Linked DNA regions of Homo sapiens. The protein of the gene in region 1 purifies or fractionates together with the protein of each later gene. This does not show direct contact. Each region holds a gene or a part of one and is shown in the gene's direction. Other genes may lie near its edges.

Region 1 (3,500 bases):
TGTTCAGGTGCAGAGAGGTAGGAGTGGAAGCTATCCTGGTAGAAGAGCCTCACGCCCCATAGGAGCCAAAGCTCTTGAAACACGCTCTGGGCATAGCTCCCCATTCTGTGCAAGGGCCATGCCCAGCTACAAGATCACCACGCTCGGGAAGTCCAAATCAGGATTCTTGGCTTCCTATCAGATAGCTACAGGTTCCTAGATCCTCCAGGCTGTGCAGTTCACCAGTCAGAGGTCATTCTTACGTAGATAGTGTTGCCTAGTAACATAGTTGACACACTCTTTTAGCAGGTTACCAAATGTAGCCAAAGATCAGACTCCCGTGTAGAAAGGGAAAAGACGTACGTTAATTCCTTACCTACTCTCATTCCCATTTTACAGAGAATAAACCTGAGATTCAGAGAAGTTTATCAACTTGCCTCAAATTACATAATAACCCAGCCAGGATTTGAACCCCGGCCTGACTCCAAATACCATGCTCTTAACTAAAATGCAAGATGTAAACATTTTTTTCTACCCCCATAAGCATGTCCGTGTTTATTTTGCTATTTGAAACACTAGTTTGAATTACTTAACCCTCGAGAACAATCGGCCTTCCTGGAAGCAGCAGCCTGTTTATCCTGTGGCTTTGCCACTCCCTGGCGCACTGCATACCCCAGTGTGAGAAGCTCAGCACCATGATAGTTAGCAGTTCTTCTTAGGATAATAAAAAAAAAAGCACTAGTTCTTTGCTTTTCTCTGTGAGTCTGTATTTTTAGTAGAGGTTTATGAGGCGGAGGGAAAGAAGTTTAAGGACAATAGAACCAGTTTTGCATCTGAAGATAAATGAGTACCTACCTGGCTACCAGGTGCAAACAATTCTCTTTTGCCTTGACATTCCTTTCTTCTTTTTAAATCATCACTATCCTATAGCACAAAACCTAAGAGCTCAAGGCAAAGCTTTATTACTAAGCTCAGTTCAGCATATAAAATCCAGTTTATATATCTGGATTATATTGCAAGAACCATTCAAGAAATGTGCCATCCATGTTCCAAGTATAAAAATAGAAATTTTAAGACAGCGTAACAGTATTACTGTTGTTTCATTGGGTGTTTAATTGACTTCAAGCTTTCGCCAGGTATTAGAACTATCTGTTGACTTCCAAAACTTCATTGTGTAGTGAGGAAAAATACTAAGGAATTTTGTAGACAAAATGTGAAATAGGTTAGGTGAAATACCATGTTTAAGTGCAATGCAGTGAGCTTATGATAAATTATATTGAAATAGTCAAAATATAATTGATGCGGGAGGTGTTGGAGAGAGGCCTTGGGGGGCATGGAATGTTCTGTTTCTTAGCCTAGGTGGTGGGGACAGCTGTGGTTTTATCATCTGAACGCTATCATACATTTATGGACTATGCTTTCTATGGCAATTTTCAAAAATGCAGCTGACAAAGTTTGCCTGCCAATATGAAAAGGTGAATGTTCTTTAGGTAGGAGATACCATTTCATAGATTGTTTTGAATCTCATATTACAGGAATTTACAAAATGGTAGATTATACAGTGAGAAAAGAACAAAGTTTGAATATTACCAACATCAGAGAAGCACTGGAAGAATAACTGAAGTTTCCAAAGTGAAACTATCAGGAAAAGTCACCTTTCTCTTTATGAGTAATAAAATTAGAACATAAACAAATCATCAGTGGTGACCTCCTTCCTTGTGCTGCTCTCTTCCCTTCTTCTGGAATCTTCCTGGGCAGATGTATGCAGTTCTGTCTGTGTTTCCTGAGGTGGGCCTGGCCCTGTGCTAGGAACTGGGGACTAGAATCCTTGCCTTCATGACTAGGGAAGCAAGGACTCAATTAGCCAAGAAAAGTTTTTAAACCCAAATAACAATATGAGAATCAAAGTAATACCAAAAAATTTAAAAAAAAAAGTTTTCATGAGGCCATTTATGTTAGATGGCAGTTAAGTGGTACAAAGAAGAAATACTGCCAACCTGCAGATAAAGGAAGCACTGTCTACTTAGGAGTGGTTGGGGAACTTTGAGGATGTGTGGGCTTCCTATGGGTAGAAAAAGAGAGCAGACCTTCCAAGAGAGGAAGTCTTGTAACTGAAAGTATTACAGTGGGTGCAGATGTATTCTGTGTGTATAAGCTTCCTGGCAAGGAGGATTTGCTGGGTAAGAAATGGACCTGACTTTGAGAAACCTTAAAAATAACAAGCTAGAAGATAATTCCATTGCATTGGAAAAGGGAAGCTGTTGTGAGTTTTTGAGATTGGGACTGACCTGTGGCCAAGGTCCTTTTCCAGGGTCGTGCATGTCTGAAACTCTAATAAATGTCATCAGTCCTCATGCTCTATACATGGCCCAGGTTCCTTACCTTCCATTATTGTTTCAGATTCATGACAGATGCTGCCCGCCGAGAGCAGGAGTCCCTAAAGAAGAAGATTCAGCCGAAGCTCTCGCTGACTCTGTCCAGCTCAGTGTCTCGAGGGAATGTGTCCACTCCCCCACGCCACAGCAGTGGAAGCCTTACTCCCCCCGTGACCCCACCCATCACCCCCTCCTCTTCATTCCGCAGCAGCACTCCGACAGGTGAGTGGCCTGGCCCTACCGCCTTGAGAAGGAGGAGAGGGGAGAAAGAGAAAGTGTGTGTGATGTGCTGGGGGCAGAAAGGGGCTGGGGACAGATGACGACACAGACCCACCACATCGTTGATCCTTTCACTAGTCTACATATTGATAAATTCTTTAATTTATTATTGAAGAAATATTTATAGATTATTGTTAATATGCATGTGATAATGGTTTTGTAGATTTTTTGTCAATATATTTCCCATTTTTACCATGCATACCCATCTACACAACATTTTTAATGGGCTCTGTAATACATATTTCATCACCCGATTTACAACTAAATATATTATGAACGTTTTCTCTTGTAAAACAGTTAAAATAATTGTATCCTTTAGAGAAAACATAATTTATTAAGCAGTCTTGGAGAAATTTAGATATAATTTTTCTTCCAAGGAGACTTCATTGTTTTTACAACACCTTGAGAAGAAGGGGGAGTCCTTGTCTTCTCCAGCTTTTTCTATAGATAGTGGAAACTTGCCCTTCAATTTAGCTTTTTCATTTGCTTCTTTATACCCACCTATTCACCAATCAAGTAATCCATTTTATTTTTCCCAGTCCATCTCTCCTATTTGCCTTCTCTTTCCCGTCAGTCTCCCTGACACACATGTGGATGTGCACTACTCCAGCACTCTCATCTGCTCTCCTCCAGGTCCTCGCCTTAAAGAGGCTTCTGTCCTTTTAAGGGTACCATCTTCATTGATTTGGATCAACTCTGCTCAAAACTTTATCCTCAGTTCCACATTAGGATTAGCCTATAATAATCTGAAGACAAAGTTCAGTTGTTTAAAAGAAAATATTAGTAAGAAAACCTTGGTAGACTTACATGTCTCAAGAAACTAGAACTTCAGCTGGGTGCTGTGGCTCACATGTATAATCACAGCAC
Region 2 (3,500 bases), on another chromosome or scaffold:
CTTCAGAAGGGGTAGGAACCTTTCCAGTTTTTAATTAGTCTCATGGTCCAGTAGTAGATGTGTTCATTATTTGTCTTCTTAACCTCCTTCTTTGATCTTCCTTTTTTTTTTTTTTTTTTTTTTTTGGAGACATTGTCTCACTCTGTCACCCAGGTTGGAGTGCAGTGTGCAGTGTGACATGATTGTAGTTCACTGCACCCTTGACTTCCTGGGCTCAAGCAGTCCTCTCACCTCAGCCTCCTGAGTAGCTGGGACTACACCTGGCTAATTTTTTATTTTTAGCAGAGATAGGGTCTTGCTGTGTTGTCCAGGCCTATCTCCAACTCCTGGGCTCAAGCAGTCCTCCTGCCTTGGCCTCCCGAAGTGCTGGGATTACAGGTGTGAGCTACCATATCCAAACCCCATCTCTTAATACAATAATGAAAAAGTCTGTATTCTGGCCCGGCGTGGTGGCTCACGCCTGTTAATCCCAGCACTTTGGGAGGCTCCGGAGGGGGGGGGGGGGGGGCGGATCACCTGAGGTCAGGAGTTTGAGACCAGCCTGGTCATGGTGAAACCCCATCTCTACTAAAAATATAAAAATTGGCCAGGCGCGGTGGCTCACGCCTGTAATCCCAGCACTTTGGGAGGCTGAGGCAGGTGGATCACGAGGTCAGGAGATGGAGACCATCCTGGCTAACACGGTGAAACCCCGTCTCTACTAAATATACAAAAAATTAGCCGGGCGTAGTGGTAGGCGCCTGTATTCCCAGCTACTCAGGAGGCTGAGGCAGGAGAATGACATAAACCCAGGGGGCGGAGCTTGCAGTGAGCTGAGATCGCACCACTGCACTCCAGCCTGGGTAAGAGAGCGAGACTCCATCTCAAAAAAAAATAATAATAAAAATTAAAAAAAAATTAGCAGGGTGCAGTGGCACACCCCCCGTAACCCCAGTTACTTGGGAGGCTGAGGCAGGAGAATTGCTTGAACTTGGGAGGCGGAGGTTGCAGTGAGTCAAGATGGCACCACTGCACTCTAGCCTGGGCAACAGAGTGAGACACTATCTCATAAAAAAGAGAAACATTCTGTTTTTTAGTATTTCAACAGATTAAGAACAGCTCAGTCCATTGCTGTGTTTAAGATAGATTGGGGTTATTTTGCTTAGACACATTTTAGAAGCTTCCTAAATTTTTTTAGGAAGTTTTTTTTGGATGTTTTTGTTTTTGTGATTTTCCTAAAGAAAATTTTGACAGTAAGCAGATGTTAACTTTTGAGTCCAACAGTATTTCCCTATTTCTTTCCTTTTCTTAGGACTGTTTTATTTTATTTTATTTATTTTATTTTATTTTATTTATATAGACAGAGTCTTGCTCTGCTGCCCATGCTGGAGTGCAGTGGCGCAGCCATGGCTCACTGCAGCCTCAGTCTCAGTCTCACAGGCTCAAGCAGATCCTCTCGCCTCCGCCTCCCAAAGTATTACAGGCATGAGCCACCATGCCTCTTAGGCCTGGTTTATTTTGAAAAGTATCATTGCTACTGTGTGTGAGCAGCCCTAACTTCACCGAAGACAGAAGAACCAACAAAAAGAAGTATAAATTTTTATTTACTTAATTAAAAAAAAAATTTTTTTTTGAGACAAGGTCTTACTCTGTCACCCAGACTGATCCTCCCATCTCCCCTTCCTGACTAGCTATGACTACAGGTGCCTGCTACCATGTCCAGCTAATTTCTGTATTTTTTGTAAAGATGAGGTTTTGCCATGTTGCCCAGGCTGGTCTTGAACTCCTGGGCTCAAGCAATCCACCCGCCTCAGCCTCTCAAAATGACAGGATTATAGGAACGAGACACCATGCCTGACCAGCATAATTGAACGTTACTGAAAATGCAGTGTTATGGTGTGAGATTACAGTATTGTCATCAGGCCATATTAGCACTGTATATATTGAAATCATGCTACCTAATACTTTTTTCTAAGTCTCAGTTATTTAGCTTGTTTAAATGTAATGATGGAGCTAAGTTTTCTAGGTAAAATGGGGTAACAGTTTTGCTGAAATCCCCCATTTATTATAGAACGGTGACTCTGGGATGTATTTTCTAGAAGCTGAATAGAATTTACTTTTGAGTTTGGGTTATTTTACAGTCTTGTGCTGGCATTATTCATCAGTATGACTAGTATCACACATTGCTTTTTCTAGTACAGTAAATTATTAAGAGTTACAAGTTCAGGGAATAGCTTTATCCTAAAGACGAAAGTGGTAAGAGTTTTAAAAACAGCCAGGCAGCTTTTGCCACTGTTTTACTGGAGAACATTCAGATGTCTGTCATTGAGCTTTAGAATGGGTGTGGGTGGCAGATGGAGTTTTCCAGGTTGACTTTGTTCAGAATCAACTCCATCACCTTTTGGCTTAGTTTTATGTATAAAGTACAGTTTGAGTCAGGGCGTGGTGGCTTATGCCTGTGATCCCAGTACTTTGGTAGGCCAAGGCAGGACGACCACTTGAGCCTGGGAATTTGAAACCAGCCTGGGCAACATAGTGAGTCTTTGTTTCTACAAGAAATTTAAAAAAAAAATTAGCCAGCCATGGTGGCGCGCCTATGGTCTCAGCTGTTTGAGAGGCTGAGATGGGAGGATCACCTAAGCCCAGGAGGTCAAGGCTGCTGTGAGCCATCATCGCTGCCACTGCAATCCAGCCTGGGTGACAGAGTGAGATCCTGTGTCCAAAAAAAAAAAAAAAACAACAGAATTGACTCCCATCACTTTTTGGCTCAAGTTTTTATATTAACTACAGTTTTGGTTGTAACTTAAGTATTTTGTAGGAAGGGAGGAATTTTGAACAACCAGACAGAGACTAACTTAATAGTTTTAATCTTACCTGCAAGGTAAGCTTGAATGAATTTGACATAGCTCCTTACAAGGTTTTGCATTTGGGGTGTAATTTATCATCTTAGTCGTGATGCTGTGTGTTAATATGAGGATATATTATCATTTTATGAAATGTCTTTTTTTTTTTTTTCCTTTTAACCTCCACAGTCTTGGTGCCATTATTTAAGAAACATTAGCTGATAATAGCAGTGTTTTCTAACCTACTAATAACAGTTATCCTTTTTTGGTAATTACCTTATTTTAGTAAAAGTTTGGAAGATTAAAACAGATACACATATGTTTCCAGGCTTAGTGAAGGGGATGTACCAACTTCAAAGAATTAAAAAGAAATGGCTTTTTACCTAAATAACCTTTTGTTGCTGGTAGTATAGCTTGTGCTAATTTTTGTAATGTTTAAGTAATGAAATAATTCTACATATCAGGTCCTTTTTATTTAGAACATCGACTTCCTAATATCATCCGAATAAATACTCTGGACATAGTAGGTGAAAGTATTTTGTTAACAACTTCTTTCTGGCCAAGCATGGTGGCTCATGCCTGTGGTCCCAACACTTTGGGAGGCTGAGGTGGGGAGATCACTTGAACCTATGGATTTGAGACCAGCCTGGGCAGCATGGCAAAACACTTGTTTCTAAA

Evidence for each region.
Region 2: the proteins of JAZF1 (region 1) and DDI2 purify together in Homo sapiens (affinity purification with mass spectrometry; one large-scale study listed by BioGRID and IntAct). This does not show direct contact.

What each region holds. Positions count from the first base shown.
Region 1 is NC_000007.14:27,894,296-27,897,795, reverse strand, and holds part of JAZF1 (juxtaposed with another zinc finger protein 1), read left to right. Parts: intron 1-2,379; coding exon 2,380-2,576; intron 2,577-3,500. UniProt on the Homo sapiens protein: Acts as a transcriptional corepressor of orphan nuclear receptor NR2C2. Inhibits expression of the gluconeogenesis enzyme PCK2 through inhibition of NR2C2 activity.
Region 2 is NC_000001.11:15,651,958-15,655,457, forward strand, and holds part of DDI2 (protein DDI1 homolog 2), read left to right. Parts: intron 1-3,500. UniProt on the Homo sapiens protein: Aspartic protease that mediates the cleavage of NFE2L1/NRF1 at 'Leu-104', thereby promoting release of NFE2L1/NRF1 from the endoplasmic reticulum membrane.